Regions from separate parts of the Homo sapiens genome. Here region 1 is linked to region 2. A link means that fine-mapping ties the variant in region 2 to the plasma level of a protein whose gene starts in the linked region. Region 2 holds a variant in brackets. A gene starts in the other region. All regions are shown on one strand. Distances are between the middles of the regions.

Region 1 (8,528 bases), 99 Mb before region 2:
GGACATTCAATTTTTTATGGTATTAAGTAGGTTCTGATCCTCAGAGTCATGTAGGAATTCAGGCCAGAGTGGGGTTTCTTTGTCATCCTCAACATGAGCCTTTTACTACTGTGGGTTAGTCAAAAGGAAAAGGAGAAGTGAATCTAGATGATCTTTAAGTAGATGAGCTGAGAGTTGCCAACAGCATTTTTCCTCATGTCTCTTTGGTGAGAACCTAGTCCTAGAACCAAACTAAGTCAAAAGAGTGACTAGAAAATTTAGTCTTTAGGTTAGCGGCCCTGTGTCCAGAAGGAGAAAAAGAACTAGGCCGGGCGCCATTGGCTCTCGCCTGTAACCCCAGCACTCTGGGAGGCCGAAGCGGGCGGATCACGAGGTCAGGAGACCATGCTGGCTCACATGGTGAAAATCAGTCTCTACCAAAAATACAAGAAGAAATGAGCCGGGCGGGTTGGCGGGCGCCTGTGGTCCCAGCTACTCCCGGGGCCGAGGCGGGAGAATGGCGGGAACCCGGGGGGCGGAGCTTGCGGGGAGCCGAGGTCGCGCCACCGCACTCCAGCCTGGGCGACAGGGCCAGACTCCGTCACATACAACAACAACAAAAACAACAAAAAACAGATTAGTGGGCAGAGGAAGTGGAGAACAACCTGTGGCTGCCACAAGCTCTTGTTGGTCTTTCCTTTTTCTCTAACATGTTTCTGTTACATTGAGTGGAAAACATACTTTCAAAAACAACTGGAAAAAAAAAGAAAAGGAGAAACTTCATTTTGGCTATGTGTCTCTGTAAAAAGATCAGCCTTTATGCTCCTGGTATTACTCGCTATCCCACTATTCGACATTTGTCTTGTTTGCTGCAACAGAATAATAATAAATAAAATTATCTTCAAAGATGGCAGTGACTTTTCATCCTGTAAAATGATACAAGATTAAAAACTTGGAGATTTTTTTCAATATATTCTCGGCCATTAACCAGTTGTACAACTCTGATAAAATTTCTGAACCTTACTCTTTTCAGATATAAAAAGAAGCTATGGAAGATTATGTTTTCTGAGGTCCCTTCCAGACTGAAAAGATTTCGTACCATGTTGGAAATAGAGAGGTTTAGAAGAAATTCTCATCCTCCAGACATATGAGGACTTTCTCCAACAAATAGGAATTCATCCTATAACTCAGTTCACAGGCCTTTGAGATAAGACTTGGGGGCATAGGACTTTGGAGCAAACCATCAATAGGAGAGAAAACTAGTCATTGTAGGCATTGCTGATTGGAGGGTGGGAAATCCTTCTGACCTGCACAAGTAATCAATGGATGCCTTAAAGCATGAGATTTGAAAACACTTAACATTATCTTGGCTACATAATTATAATGTTATTAATGGCCACAAAGTTTCTTAGCCTTTTTAAAAAATCCAGTGAAAGTATTTGATTTCATGACCTCCCAGGGCTGAATTATACATATTAATGATCCATGGCATGCAATACAAGATTTTACCTTTTTAGTTGTTCCAGAATTATTGCCCTTTGATTTTTAATACATATCCTTTTGTTCTTGTATTAAAGGACAAGTTAAAGGAGTAGTGACTCTGTCAGGATAACTCTGCAGAATTAATATGGTCTTTTTAGCTTTATTAATATCAAAGCTGAAGTGGCTGCTTTGTACTTTCAAGGTTGCTTTTGAAGGATCTATTCCTCAGTGGAACATCCTGCTTCCTGCTTTTTATTTTTTATTTTTATTTTTTATTACAGCAGTTGGCCGGAAAGCCCCTGTTGATCTGTGACTATTTGGAACTGCTAGACTGAAATGCCATTTTCAAAACTCCAGCTCTTCTGCTAAACAATTTTTCTAGGAATGATGCCACATCACTAGCTACTTGTATTTGCCAAAAGGCAATACTACTTCAATGGCCCTAGCTCTGGGAATGATACCAAATGATGGTTCAGGAGGGAGGGAGGGAGGCAGTAAATCAGCAGGAAAAGCTGAAAAATGCCCCAGCTTTTAATAGCTTTTATCTTTTTCCAGATGACTGGCCTCTCTCTCACCTTCTGCTTCTATTCATGATAGGGCCCTTTTCTCCCCTATTTTTGTGGCTTGATATTAGTATTTTCATTCGAAACGGCCGTCCTCAATTATCAGAGAGAAAATTCACACCTTTCAAAGCTACGGCAATCACATTTCCATGTGACTCATAAGTATATCTTCTTTCTCTAGCACCTAGGTGCAACTGTGGGATGCCTGATAGATTAGGATTGTATGTTGAATGGGAAATGGGTCTGAACCAAGTGTCAGACAGTAGAATGGGAGCCAGGGGAGGGTTCCAAAGCAGCAGCAGAAGGTATCTCTAGCAAGCATCCGCTCTGGCTGGGGACTGTCTTCTGGTTCCAGCCTTACTGGAAGCTCAGGCTGTAGAGTTGTGAATTCCTGGGGCCAGGCAAGCCTAGATGTGTTGCCTGCTTTTGATAATGTATCAAAAATATGAACTCATCCTTGGAAGCGACAGCTATGAGGTGTTTCTTGGATGTAGAAATTTAGGTCATCTGTCTTCCTTTTGCATTGCCTTAAAAAGTACGATTTCCTTTCTTGGTTTATCATTTGCTGGCCTTCTTTCTTTCCATCCTTCCTCCCTTCCTTCCTTCCTTCCTCCCTTTTTTCCTTCCCTAGACTTTCCCTATCTCCCTCTTTTCTTTCGTAAAATTTGGTTGCCTGGGATAACGTGTATTGCATACAAGCTGACTTCCTTACTGTCCCTAGTAAGCTATGTGTGGCTATTATTTCTTCATTTATATGCAATGCCAGAAGCTTAGAAGAATGTTATCTCCCTTTCAGTTAAAAACTCATAGTTAAGAACTGGCCATCTTCTTGTTTTGGGTATTGTGGCTTGGTACTGTCTAATATATTTGGAGGGTATTTGATTTTTTAAAAAGCTACTGGCCATGCCTATTGAGTTTCCTACTGAGCCCAGCACCCAGACCAGTGATTGATTAAATAGTAGCTGCTCAATAAATATTTGTTTTGTAAATAATGATTCTATTGTCAAGAAACAAATCACCAAGAAAGAAGGAGCTATATATTTAAGAGTACTCTGTTCATCTGGCCAAAATGGAGTTCCGAGTCCCTTGCTCAGCTGATGTTTGTTCACCCAGAAGATGGTAAACTCCTGAGACCAACTTCGCTTTGTTGTTCTCTTGTGGTTCCTTGACCTTGGAAATGTTTTTCTACAGGCAGAGTATTTCCCCCTGTTGGAATTTTATTTAATATTCTATCTTTGTTTCTACTTTAGAAAACATGCCACGTGAATAATGATGCCTCAGGCAAAAGAAATCACTCCAGCAGTACAATTTAAACTTAGGACAAATCCTGCCCTCACTTGCATTCACAATTTGCCAAGGCAGTTGGTAAGAACTGTGCCCACACACAAATTGACAGAATCGAGGCCCCAAGGTTAGCGATGATTAAAATTTAAAAGTCCATTCATTCATTTTCAAAATATTTTATTCGATTGCTTCTGAGGCAGAATCATGAGTTGCCTTCGCTTTTGCTGCTCCCGGTGGTGGCATCCAACTCTGAGGATAGCTCATCCAACTCTGAGGGTAGCTCTGAGGGGAGCTAAATATCCTCATTGTTCAATGAGCTAGATGAAAACAAAACGAGGCTGTAAGGTCAATCTCACAGCCTTAGTGGAGTAAAAATTAGAAGTCAATAATTCTCTTACCAACAAAGAGGACTTGCATTCAACAGGATTTTCAAAAGTGGTATCCTGTAAAAATTTTGGAAAATACCACCATAATGGAAAAAAAATAAAGTGGCATATAAATCAAATGTAGTGCTAAAAATTATAATTTTTCCATATGAATTTTGGAATCCTAAAATATTTTTATGTGTTTGTGGATTCATAAGGCATCAGAACTGGCTTTTTGCACTGAATATGAGTACAGAAGGCTTTCCTCTCCAATAGTGAATTAATAAAGGATAAGTAGGAAAAACGTTACGAAACGATGTGGTAACATTATAGACTCTGTATTAGGGCAAAAATTGTGAGATAGTAGAAGATCTGTAAATTTAAGCATGCACAATTTGACAGCGGATGGTCGTAGCATATTTTGTAAATTCAATAGCAAGCCCCACCACGCCCTTAAATGAAGGAAAGCAAGAAGACAATTTTTAATACGTACATGGCACCACACCCCTCTAAGACGCAGCAATGGGAGAAAAGCAGATTGGCGACCTGTGTGTGCAACATGAACCGAGTGAAACCATCGGGGAGGGGGTGGGGGGCGTTTCTTTTAAATGTCGCTTTTGCAGATAAACGAGCAGGGATCCTACCTCTTTTGACCGGAGATGTTGAAAAGCACGACCAAAGTTTTTGGCTTGGTCTCTTGCTTTCCACAACGAGATAAAGTCTGAAGCCTGTAACTCTCCCTGTCCCGCGGGAGCGTGCAAAGGGAGGGAAGATAAGCGGCGTGGGTGAGGGGTGGCGGCGCAGAACCCAGGAAGGGAGCAGAGGCGAGAGCCAGCCTCCGGCAGGAGGGCGTAGACCCCGGTGCCAGCCAGAACGGCTCCAGCCTTCCCGCGGCCAGAGAGCCAGCGGCGGGAGGGGACGGGCGGGACCTCCGCGGACAGCCCCGGGTGCGGACCAGCGGGCAGCGGCCGGCGAGACCCTCCCTGGATCCGCCCAGAGCTTACCGGACCCTGCGCGCCCCCGTCCCGGCTCCCGGCCGGCTCGGGGGAGAAGGCGCCCGAGGGGAGGCGCCGGACAGATCGCGTTTCGGAGGCGGCGCAGGTGTGTCAGGGGTGGGGGTCCGCTGGCATCTCTCGTGCCGGCGCTGGGGGGGTCTCCCGTGGAGGAAGGGCTGAAGGTGCTCCGGGAGGGGTCCACTCGTTATGGAAAGGAAGCGGGGCGCGGTCAGGGTCCCTCGTCCGCAGTGGGGGTGGTCCGGGCCCCTCAGCCTGCACCCGGGAGGAGACGCCCCCTTTTCACGCCCCGCCCCCGGTGGCCGAGGCCGGATTCGGACAGCTCGGGGTCAGTCGACGGAGCACACCGGGCGCCCGAATCCGCCGGGTCCCACTCACGCCCGCCGGCCGCCGGTAGGTTGGCCCTCCCGCTTCCAGCCTCCGCCACCCCATCCCTCGCTGCTCTCTGAGGAGGATTCCAGACCCCCCCGTAGATCTCCGCCCTCTCTCGGGTGGGGCTCCGAGGTCTAGCTGGTCTGGGGGTCAGTCCCGGCCTCTGTCTCCCACCGCGCCCCTCGCTCCCCTGGACACCGCCTGGTGTGTGGGGCTCAGACCCCCCCAGTCCACTGCCCCTGTGTGGCTCCTCCTCTCAGGAGAGGATTCTAGATCCCAGCCCGGGGGGGGTTCCGAAAATGCCGCCAGCCTGGAGCGGGGAATCCATGGACCGTGGGGTTGTGGGGTTGGGGAGCACGAAAACCCAGAGAGGGGCTAGAGCTCCACCTCCCCAGACCGCCGAGGGGCGAGAGGGCGCGCCGGGGGCCGTGGTTGCCATGGCTCCTGGTAGCGGAGCCCGGGGGGCTGGAGATGCCGGTCGCGGATGGTCCCTTCTTCCTCTTTGTGCCTCTCTCTTTCTCTCGCTTTTTTTTTTTTTTTGGAGTGTGAGTGTGCGTGGGGAGGCAGCACGGAGAAAGTGATTAATTTGGGGAGCAGGGATTGGAGCCGGGAGGCTGGGGAAAGCCAGCCCCTCCGTTCCCACTCTCCGGGCTCGCTGCGAGCCACAGTGTCTCAGCCAGGGGCAGGGCCGGGGAACTCCTGCGAAAAACCACGGGCCGGAGGAGCAGCAGCCGCGCGGGCCCAGGTACCCCCGCCCCAGACGGCCAGCAGGGTGGAGCGCAGGGTGGGCGTTTGGGCTGCTGGGCGGGAAGGCGGGCGGGGAAGGGGTGGGAGGCCGGCGGCGGAGGGCAGGTGTGCGTCGGCAGGGCTGGGTGGCCCGGCAGAGAGGGCGCCCCAGGTTCAGCCCCTCCTCGAAGGGCGCCGGCGTCCAGTCCCGCTCGTGGGAGCCGCGGAGCAGCCCCAGGGCCGGCGAGCGGCTGCCCTGCCAGGCGCGTGCGCGAGGGCGCGCTCCCGCGGGAACGCGCCGTGCGCGGGGAGATTTGCGCGTGCGCGTGGCGATGGTAACTGGTGGGCCCCCCGGGCTCGCTCTAGGCGGAGGCTCCCGGGACGCCCACGTGGCTTCGAATTCCAGCTCCACCATCACTGTGATGCGTCACTCTGGACTAGGCATTTAACTACGTGCCTCAGTTTCCCTTTCTCAATAATACGGAGATTATCGATACCCTCTATACTGGGTTGTTGCAAGACTGGAATGAGATGATACAAGTAATTTAACACCATAGATTTTTAAATTTAACACCATATGCATATTTGATGCATAATAAGCACTCAAAAGTTATTGTCGTTGATGCCATTACTGTTAGTTAATCCTCAGTTTAATTACATATGGTGCATTTTCATTTCTCTGCATTTTCATTGAAGTAAAAATTCTGCGTTTTCTAATTTTGGAGAATAATCTTAATTAAAATATGAATATTTGTACTGCACAGTCCAACTCCTACGAAGCTCTGCCTTGCAGCAGATTGGAAGAGAGAAACTGATCAACTGCCGATGAAGTTGGCTTTTCAGTATATTGATGGAGAGAGAAGCTTAGGAAGCTCTTTGGGGAAACTTTTGGTGACAAGAAAATAAAAAGTTTATCCCAGAGTTTTTCTTTTGTAAATCTTTGTGTTTTCTCTTTCACCTGCAGATGTTGCAGTTGGGTTTGTCTTAATTTCAGTCTCTTTGTGAGGGACCACCATTTGGCTTTCATAATTTAACGTGGTTACAGAGCCTATGTATACCCTGGCTTTCCATTTTATGGCCTTAAGTGCTGCAGTGGATTTACCTTTAGTAATGGCAGAACGTAGTGTATAATCATTCCTTGCAAGCTCCTGAATATTGTGAGCAAATCAATGGAGACAAATAGTTATTACTGGATGGGTGTGAGTACTGGCTATGGCAACTCATTAAAATCTCTTTCAGGGTATGTTTGTACCCACTTCACTGCAGCACAAGACTATGATGATGAATATATGTTTCCCAGATTGTTATCTGTTGCATGTAGACTTACGGATCCTTTTCTTCAAAGAAACGGCTATAGATATTTATTGATTCCTCATGGTTATATAGGTCCTCCAACCTATCTGCTGATAAGTACACTGTACACTTCGTGGGCCTAGCTGTAGGTCTAAGAGGAGTTGATTTTGCACATACTATACTTATTGCATTTAAGTTAATTCATCTCATTACATGAATTGGTTTTAAATAAATTTTTAAAATCATTTGATTATTAAAATATAGGCATTTCTTGGTGAACTTGAGGCAAGTAAAGCCTGACAGATGTCACCATCACAAAGATCCTTAGTGACCTTTACAAAATAGAGCTCACCCAGAAAAACATTTGCTAGATAGAAACCTGATTTTATAGTTGCTTCTGAAATCTTTGAAGATAGGAGGTTATTTGCCCCAAAATTGCTTTGTTGAAATAATTTAGCCTGATTCGCTTTTATAGAAAAATAAGGGTAACGATCAAGACTGATTTAAGATTCTTGTATTTTTAACCGATAAAAGAAAATTAAGTAATAGTTGGGGAACTACTGGTGTCAGATTTGAAGGAATGATTGTCAGGAAATACTGAGAGTATTACTTCAGGTAGCAGTGTTTGGCTTTGCAAGACAACCCTCTCATCCTCACTGTGAATATGTCATCTTTAAAAGGTACCTTGAGGAATTAGTGTGACAGCTTCTCTGAAATTCATGTGATCATTTACATATTGTTTCCCAGGAGCTTTGGCATTAAATGTTTCATTTATTGGAAATTATTTTGCCCTTTAATTTATGACAGCCAACAGTGCAATAGAGTCTAATGTATTTTAGAAACAATAAAATTAGCTTTTCACCATTTTCTATTTTCCCTAAAAATCTAGCAGCAATGCACTTGGAATGCTTAAGTTAGTCCAGAGACAAATGGTAAGAGTAGGAAAACATGACAGATTGGGAGGTGTTGAGTTCTGAATTTGGGGACCTAATTGAAATGCAAAGGTATAATCAAGAGAATGAACTTGTCTCTGTACTGAGGTTGTTTTCAGTGATGTACTATATTATCTGATTCAGTCAACGTTCCTTGTTATTTTTTCAAACCAAGATTGAGAATACTATATTTTCAATTATGAACATTTTGATTACAGTTTCATTCTGACTAATTCAGTCGGAAGAGAATGCAATTATTATGGTCATTTACATACAATATGCTAAGTTAACACAGCTAATGAGTGAAAGCATAATATTCTTTCTGTTTGTTCCTGGAAAAATATTGTGCTAAGCATTCTTTCAAAGAAAGATTACATTATTCGCTATCATTTTATGTCTATCTACAAGTAGAATTGGCATTGAGCCTTTTCTCTGCTATTAAAGTGAAATCTCTTATATTTTGGTGATCACATGCCTTTCCTCTCACCCCTTGGGGGAGACTGGAAACAATTCTCAATT
Region 2 (8,000 bases):
TTACCTGACTAAAGCACCTGTGTCAAGTCAGTTGCCTGCTAAATGGACAAGGATTTGTAAAAGCTGCCTGGTTGCTCTCTCAAGCAGCATCCATTATGTCAGCATCAGCAAAGCTGGGTTAGATTGACTACCAGCCAGGCCAGGAGCATGTCTTTAGAAAACTTAAAAAAGAATTAGACATTAGTGGTGTATTTATTGAAAAAGAGTCCTAACTCTAAACGGAATATCAATATCTGCCTCCCTACTTTAGACATTCTGCTGTTTTGCAGAGTTTCTTTACATTGCAGGATTTTTAGCAAGGAGAGCTTGAGGATGAGGGGAAGTTGCGATTCTACATCAACAGAGTGAATCATTTGTGGTGAATATGCAGAAGCAGCCCCTGCCTGCTTTCTAGCATCGGCTGTGGTCAGATGTTGGGTAAAGGTATAGAAGTCTCAGTACTTTTGCCAAAGGAAATGGTCTCTTCCATCAGAGAGTAACATACAAGACCTAAGTGATTCCCTTACTTCACAAAAGAGCAAACCGAGATCAGAGAGGTCAGATTACTACACCAAGGTCCTAAGAGGTGCTAAGCGGAGGAGCCAGAACTAGCAACCAGGTCTCCAACTACAGTTCCTTGTGTAGTTTGAGGATCTCCTGGCTGCAAGTAATAGTCTTCACTAGGAGTGATTTAAACTACGTGGACATTTATTATCTCCTGTATTGCGTAGACATGTGGATTCAGGTCTGCATATTTGTGGTTCCAGCTTGCAGTGTGGGGCTGCTTATGGCTGTACAGACTGTGGATTGCACAACTCCAGGGAGTACCGATTCATTCATATAGTTATCTGAATGGTGCTCCCGGACATTGGACTGTGTACAACTTGCACATATGTTTGGAGTGGCCCTGGTTGGGGGATTGAGTTAGTGGCTCAGTGATGTCAAGGCTCCAGGGTAGTTTTTCTGTGGCTGTCTTTTTCTCTGATGTGTAGCTGCTCTAACTTTTTGTTATCACGTGTCAATGTCTAAGCAGAAAGGAAGAAGTGAGTAATGAAGTATCCTGTTCACATGATTCTTTTGGCAGCAGCAAAATCTCTTCCAAAAGCATCTAATAGACTTCCCTAATATCTTATTGCCCAGGGATGGGTCACATGGCTATGTCTAGATGAAACATTGGCAGAGACAATGAGCTCACTATTATAGGCTTAGGAAAGCAGGGATCTGCTAGCAAGGCACATGGGGTAATGGGTGTTGGGAATGTGAGTGGTATGATTTGCCATAGATTGTTACACTGAAGGTAGAGTCATGTATTTTAATGTACATGATGGTATTGAAGGGAAAATGCATGTCAAAAAGCATTTGTAAAATAAAACACATCATAGATCATTTGAAATGGGCAACTCAAGTTTGCTTGCTCTATATTGATTGTGTTTAATGTTTCCCTCTGCATAAGGTAATGACTCTTCCAGCTTTTGCCTGACTTTATGAGAAACACAGCTTTCACCTGGGGGAAGTGTAATCTCTTACTACCACTGCTTTAGCAGCTTTCCAGATTTCCATTAACAGGTTCCAAAACAATTATTTTGTTTTCTGGGTAAGCAGTTTAGAGCATACGCATTTTCCTCCGTGTTTCCAGGGTGGTTGGAGGAGTAAAAAGTAATTCCTTCTCCAAACACAAAGTAGGGAAATAACCTCCATATACTTAATGTAACAACCAAACTGAATTCTAAAATGCACAGCCTGTGAATCAGGAAGTGTTGTAGATGGGAGGATACAGAGATATAAATGATACTATTCTTTCCTCTAGGGACTCACAATTTACTGCAGCTATTTCTACATGAAAGTTATGTTAATTAAATATGTGAAGTTTTACAGTCACCCAAAGGACACTGAAAGTCATTGTTCCACACATAAAAAGGCAGAGGAAGCCAGAATCACAAGCCAAATGGATGAAGTCAAGGAGAGAATGAATCAGTCCTTTCAGAGTATGGGGTACTTGCTAGAGAGTGAGGGAAGCAATGAGTAACGAGGAGTGCGATTCAGACAGCTTATCTGTACCATTCCATACTTCCCAGAGCCATGGTGGTACTATGAATACTAGCTGTAGATAAAGTGTTATTGCCAAAGAGTAGTCCTAGGGATGCCCTCAAAAGAGTTTCTATGTGATTTTCAGAAAAATGCGTAAATCTTTGCAATATCCTTTACCAGGAGGAAAAGTGGACTTTCATTGATAAGGTTTCCTTTCAAAAGCATTGGCATGATTTCCTATAGTAAAGGCCCTTCTCTCTTTCTGTTTGTCCCCTATAAGCTGACAGGAAAAAAAAGTAGAATGAAACTCCTAAAAATATGGTGACGTAGAGCTGCAAAGAATCTTTGGAATGGGCGTTCTAAATGAGGCAATGTCTATGTTATTTCTTCCTGTTTTTTAAAAGTCCTTGAACTGCTGGGACCATAAGTAGGAGAGGCTGAGTATGAGGAATTGCCCTGCAGAAGAGATCTGCCTGAAACCCTAGACCCCTCTTTTTTCTTGGCTTATAGGGTATGTGGGTGGAGGTCCAGGACCTTGAGTCTGAGTGATGACCAGTGATAATGGCACATGTATATGACAGATGGTAGCTACTCTTACCATGATACTCTTTGGGCCACGCATTATCTAGGGCTTGATGACCATCTGTAACTCAGTGTGATAGAGTGGAAACTTCTGTGAACACTAAGGTCTAAGCTATCAGTTCATTGTTGAGCAATGTTATATAACTGACCACGTCTAAGACTGAGCTCAGTCAATCCCATTACTGGGTATATACCCAAAAGATTATAAATCATTATACTATATAGACATTATACTATATAGACTTTATACTACATGCACATGTATGTTTATTGCAGCACTGTTCACAATAGCAAAGACTTGGAACCAACCCAAATGCCCATCAATGATAGATTGAATAAAGAAAATGTGACACATAGACACCATGGAATACTATGCAGCCATAAAAAAGAATGAGTTCATGTCCTTTGCAGGGACATGGATGAAGCTGGAAACTATCATTCTCAGCAAACTAACACAGGAACAGAAAACCAAACACTGCATGTTCTCACTCATAAGTGGGAGGTGAACAATGAGAACACGTGGACACAGGAAGGGGAACATCACACACTGGGGCCTGTCGCAGGGTTGGGGGCTAGGGGAGGGATAGCATTAGGAGAAATACCTAATGTAGATGATGTGTTGATGGGTGCAGCAAACCACCACGGCACTTGTATACTTATGTAACAAACCTGCACGTTCTGCACATGTATCCCAGAACTTAAAGTATAAAAAAAAAAAAAAATAGACTGAGCTGAGTAACCTTTCTGGGGTCAACTTCAGATATTTGGCTTGTTGTTCAGGAGTCTTTTGTAGAGGACAGGGGCTCTGGTGGTATGCTGGTGGCTTGTTGGCCTTTGCCCCTGCATGTTCCATGTAGGTGGAGTCAGGTAGCCCAGTGTCAGACTGGGAACTCCAGGCCAGGATGGATGCAGGAGCCCCTGAGGCACCTGGGCTCAGGGCGAGGCAGCCCCTTTTCTTGACAGAGGATTGGCCTACAGCCTTCATTGAATGGAGAGGATTAGACTAGATACCATCTATAGATATTCCCCCTCTACCCCTATGCAGGTTATCTCATGGGAACAGCTGTTATTTCAATCTTGTCTTAGCCATGCCTTCCCCAGTGCCCAGCCTTGCTTAACATTCCTAGTGGAGATGGAGCCAGCTTTAGGAGGTGTAGCCTCTGATCTGAATTAAACTGACCCTGAGGTTATGGAAAGGGCAAGCAAGCTGGGAGTGTGAGAATCGCCCCCTCCTATAGCATATTCATGGGATGATTTGGGGAGGATAATGGCAATAATACCCTGAGAGGAAAGGGTTTTGAATATTCAGCAGCTCCCATCTCAGCCATACTACATGGCCCCACAGCAGAGAGCCTTTGATAAAGTTGGCTTTCTAGAATAGGGATTGAAATCAAACTTGCTTGTAAAAGCATCTAGAGTTATGTTACTTTCTTATTTAGAAACAGAGAGCCCAGGACCATGAGGCTTCCGCCTGCTGGACAGCAAGGACTTCCAGTAGCTTCTCAGCTGTTTTCCCAGTCACTTTCAGAAGCAAGGCTGCTATAGCTAATTGATGTATGCAAGATGTAATTACAGCCATTGATAGGGAAAATATCAGCAATATGATGCCCTTGGAAGCTCAGAAAAAAGTCAAAAGGCTGTACCATGACTCTCACAATAGCCAGATCTGAATATAAAATCTAGTCTCTTCTGGTGATGGAGAAAAGGAAGTGTCATCCATACAAGATGAATTTACACTCTGAACCCCAGGAGGTCCTGCACGTAGGAAGTGCCTACAATCCAAGTACCATGCTCTTTACTGCCTCTCCTGCTTCCAGCACTGTCCCTGGGGTCATCCAAACCAGTACAGTAACCCAGCTGGCCTCTCTTCTGAAAACATCTCCAACTTCAACAATACTTTGAGATACCATATTGCTGGTATTTCAAAAACTGCTGCCAGCAGGGAGGAGGCCAATGGCGTGTCCATAGATCATGTTCAGCCTCCAAGTGGTCTCATAATCAACAAAGAATCTGAAGTTTACAAGATGCTTCAGGAGAAACAGGAGTTGAATGAACCCCTGAAACAGTCTACCTCTTTCCTGATTTTGCAGGAAATCCTGGAGTCTGAGATAAAAGGGGATCTCAACAACCCTCAGGATTCAGAAGTGTTACTCAGCTCAGTCTATTACTCAGTGGCTGCATCAATTGGAAATGCTCAGAAGGTGCCCATGTGTGACAAATGTGGTCCTGGCATTGTAGGCATGTTTGTAAAGCTGCGGGGACCATCATCCCCTCCCTGAATGTTACGTGTGCACTGATTGTGACACTCACCCGAAAGAGAAGGGCTTTTTTTTTTTTT[TTTTC/T]CATCAAATCTACTGTGAAGAGCATGCCCAGGAGCAAGTCACACCACTTGAGGGTACGATGTGGTCATCATGTTCCCCAAGTGATCCAGCAGACCTGCACTGACCACCGTTCTCCAGCCAGCCTCTGCTGCAGCTAGTTCTCTAAATGTTCTGGCCTTGTCTCTTGAAAGTTCTGTACTTATTCCCCCACCCCACAACCCGCTTACCTTGGTTTTATCCCTGCTCATTGAACCTTGAGTCCCTTGTCTTGGTTAACTGACTCACACTGACTGTGTGGTGCCCGCCCACTTTTACAATGAATGGCAAACTGTTTTTGTTCAGTGTCCCCTTGCCGGCAACACTGTGTACCTTCCTCCCCTCAGTTCTTCTCTGCTGCAAATGGACATCAGCCACATTTGAACCAAATCAAATATAATATGTCTGACATTGATTTCATTTTTGCTCCATCTATAGACTCCCAGAAAAAAGAAATAAAAAAAATGCAAAGAAAATTTAAATGAACAAACAGACCCTTCTGGAACCTACTGTGACATGAGATGTGTCCACAAGGCGAGGTTTCAGGCACACACTGAAGGAGCATCTGCTGGACAGCCCTCCCCGCCCCCAAGTCCTTACCAACCTGTGCCACTGGTACTTATTTTTCTTGACTGATTAGGTAGACACTGATTTAGGCATGACTCTTTAATATTTGAGAGCATAGAGCTTCCAATTAAAATATGTTAAAAGTATTTTTTAAATTTTAAACCTTACAATCAGATGAACTGTACTACTCAAAAAAGGTAAATTTAATGAATATAGGAGTGTGTACATCATCTCCTGTTTACCTGACAAAGCCAATGCTTGGCTCTTTTAAACAGTTTCCGAATTCTCACATTCTCCATGTTTCTGGGTTCTACAGTGTTTGTACAGTTTTGCTACTCATTGATTTCCTAAAATCCTTAAGGTCTTGAGTTCATCTGGTCTGCTGATTTCACGGGTCTTAGGGAAACAGTGTTCTCTTTAGACTTTCCATGCCATGAGGGCCCTGGAAGGATAGCCTCAACAACTTTCCCTTCTGTGGTTTTGTTCCCTAGCGGGCAAGGACACAGTCTATTTTGTCATTTCTCCAGGCCTGCCTGGGTGAGGGTAAGAGCTGGGAGAGAGATGGACCAGCAACACGAAGTTCCCCTTTGTGTTCTACTTTAAAGCTGTTTGCCAGGAACACCGCGTGAACTTTTAGTTTGTATTGGTTAAGCTCCAAGGACCAGTCCATGTTTGAGAAATTGAAGTGAGCATGGGCAGGGTACAGAAAACTGCACTTTTCTCACCAGATTCCAAACTGTCCATCTCCACACTTGTGCAGCAGAGAGCCAGAGGTAGAATCTTCGAGGAGTGGGTAATGCTGGCAAAGAATGTAGACCTGCATAATGTAAAACACAAATGCAGAGTCCTATATGGAGGTGTGTTTCACAGTCTCAAGTTCTGGATCCACATGCTAGTTCCACTTTGGAGTATGACTTTAAAATGTTACATAATAGATTTCTGAACCTCTTTCTTCATTTGTATACTGGGAATATCAGGCTTACTTATCTCAATAGGTGGGTATGAGAATCAAATGAGAGAACATGTATGGGCTGATAATAGTTGCTGACAATGATATGCTCTTCCTATAGAATGTTACTCATTGAATCTTGTATCTTTTTAATACAGCTCTAGACTTGTAAGTCGCAGTTGGTTCTTTTTCTACTTGCGCAACAAGTGGAATTTGGCACTGGGTTTCTGACAGTATGCATGGATTCTTGGAATCAGTTTTGTAAAAGATGGCTCAATCTCTCACTTGTCCATCTGTCCAACAGCATACCCTGTAAAAAGTGTGTGGTGGTTGGTAATGGAGGAGTTTTGAAGAATAAGACATTAGGAGAAAAAATCGACTCCTATGATGTAATAATAAGGTAAATATATTTTCTATTTGCTACCCTAGAATTGTTTCAAAAGAATATGGTTTCTTGCCTTAATACAGCTGTGTTTTGACAGGAAGGGGAGATGTTTCCATTTGGTTTTTTTTTTATTGCACAACCTTCTCTCTTGGTTGTTGGCTAGAGTTAGACCTAGATTTCAGGTTACTCATTTAGCAAGTATTTGTTAAGTCTCCTTAGTGTGCTAGCATGCTTCTAGCCACAGGAGAGATAGCAATGGATAAGAACAATGTTTGTGCTCCCTGTGGAGGGAAGAAAATGAGTAATTAAATATATAAAAATAATAAATGCCATACATAATTTAAAAAGGATATAACAGAGAATCTTTGAATGGCTCCTTTGTAATGATTGACCACTTTGAGAAAGAGACATCTAAGCAGGGCCCAAGTGACCACACAGCAACAGCCATATGAAGATTATGGTAGAGCAGTCCAGGCAGAAAGGATGTTTGCTGCAGGGCCTCAGGAGGAGATGATCCTGAGTTTGAGAGGAGTAGCAAAGAAACCCAGTGAAGCTGGAAAGTAGCAGGCAGGGGGAGAGTGGTGGAATTGGAAGCTGAAGCGGTGAGCAAAGATCAGGCTGCATAGGACTTTGTAAGCTAGGATTAGAAACTTGGATTTTAAGTGCAACAGGAAGCTTTTTAAGGGTTTTAAGCAAGAGAACAAAGCAGTCTGGTTATGTCTTAAATATTCTGGCTGTGGCATGGACAATGGAATGTGGGGGACAAGGGTGGAAATGAAGAGGCCAATTAGGTTGCTGTATTCGGGTATAATATGATGGTGGCTTGGGACAGGATTGTTGTAGGAGAGGAAGAGATATGTGGACTGACTGAAGATGTGTTTTAGACATAGAGTTATCGGGATTTGTTGCCGTATTAGATGTGAAGAGTAATGAGAATAAAGAAATCAAGGATGCCTCCTACTCTGTTTTCAGCTTAGGAGATTGGCTGGAGAGTGGTATCATTTATTAAGTTGGGGAAGACTGGTATAGGAGCAGGTTTAGAGGAAAACCATGATATGAACATGTTAGATTTGAGATGCTTGTTAGATTTGCAGTGGGTTTGTCGAGTAGGCAGTTGGATAAACAGGTTAAAATCTTGATGGTGTGTGGCCTA

Alleles and levels. Alleles are on the strand shown, and positions count from the first base shown. The strength of an association depends on the size of the effect and on how common the allele is.
As copies of TTTTC replace T in region 2, the plasma level of the protein whose gene starts at base 4,474 in region 1 goes up (weak association).

Evidence for each region. A credible set is the group of variants that fine-mapping cannot tell apart. PIP is the chance, under the fine-mapping model, that this variant and not a neighbour inherited with it causes the effect. The UK Biobank Pharma Proteomics Project read protein levels with antibody pairs (Olink). The fine-mapping took linkage between variants from a reference panel, not from the people measured, so its PIPs are less certain.
Region 1: CHL1 starts here. The variant in region 2 is the best candidate, but not a certain one, in a credible set for the plasma level of the CHL1 protein (UK Biobank, PIP 0.89).

Annotation. Positions count from the first base shown.
Region 1 is chr3:192,290-200,817 of GRCh38, forward strand. It overlaps CHL1 (cell adhesion molecule L1 like), which reads left to right and starts at 4,474. Exons shown (of 28, transcript NM_006614.4): 1 at 4,474-4,774. CHL1-AS2 (CHL1 antisense RNA 2) reads right to left here and starts at 5,052. Exons shown (of 4, transcript NR_144487.1): 1 at 4,678-5,052; 2 at 4,167-4,219; 3 at 3,707-3,751; 4 at 3,469-3,625.
Region 2 is chr3:98,778,179-98,786,178 of GRCh38, forward strand. ST3GAL6 (ST3 beta-galactoside alpha-2,3-sialyltransferase 6) reads left to right here. Exons shown (of 10, transcript NM_001323368.2): 6 at 6,767-6,862. It also overlaps the pseudogene PDLIM1P4. Among named protein-coding and RNA genes, the nearest start is that of ST3GAL6, 19 kb to the left of the region's middle. The variant TTTTC/T (reference allele first, on the strand shown) is at 4,928.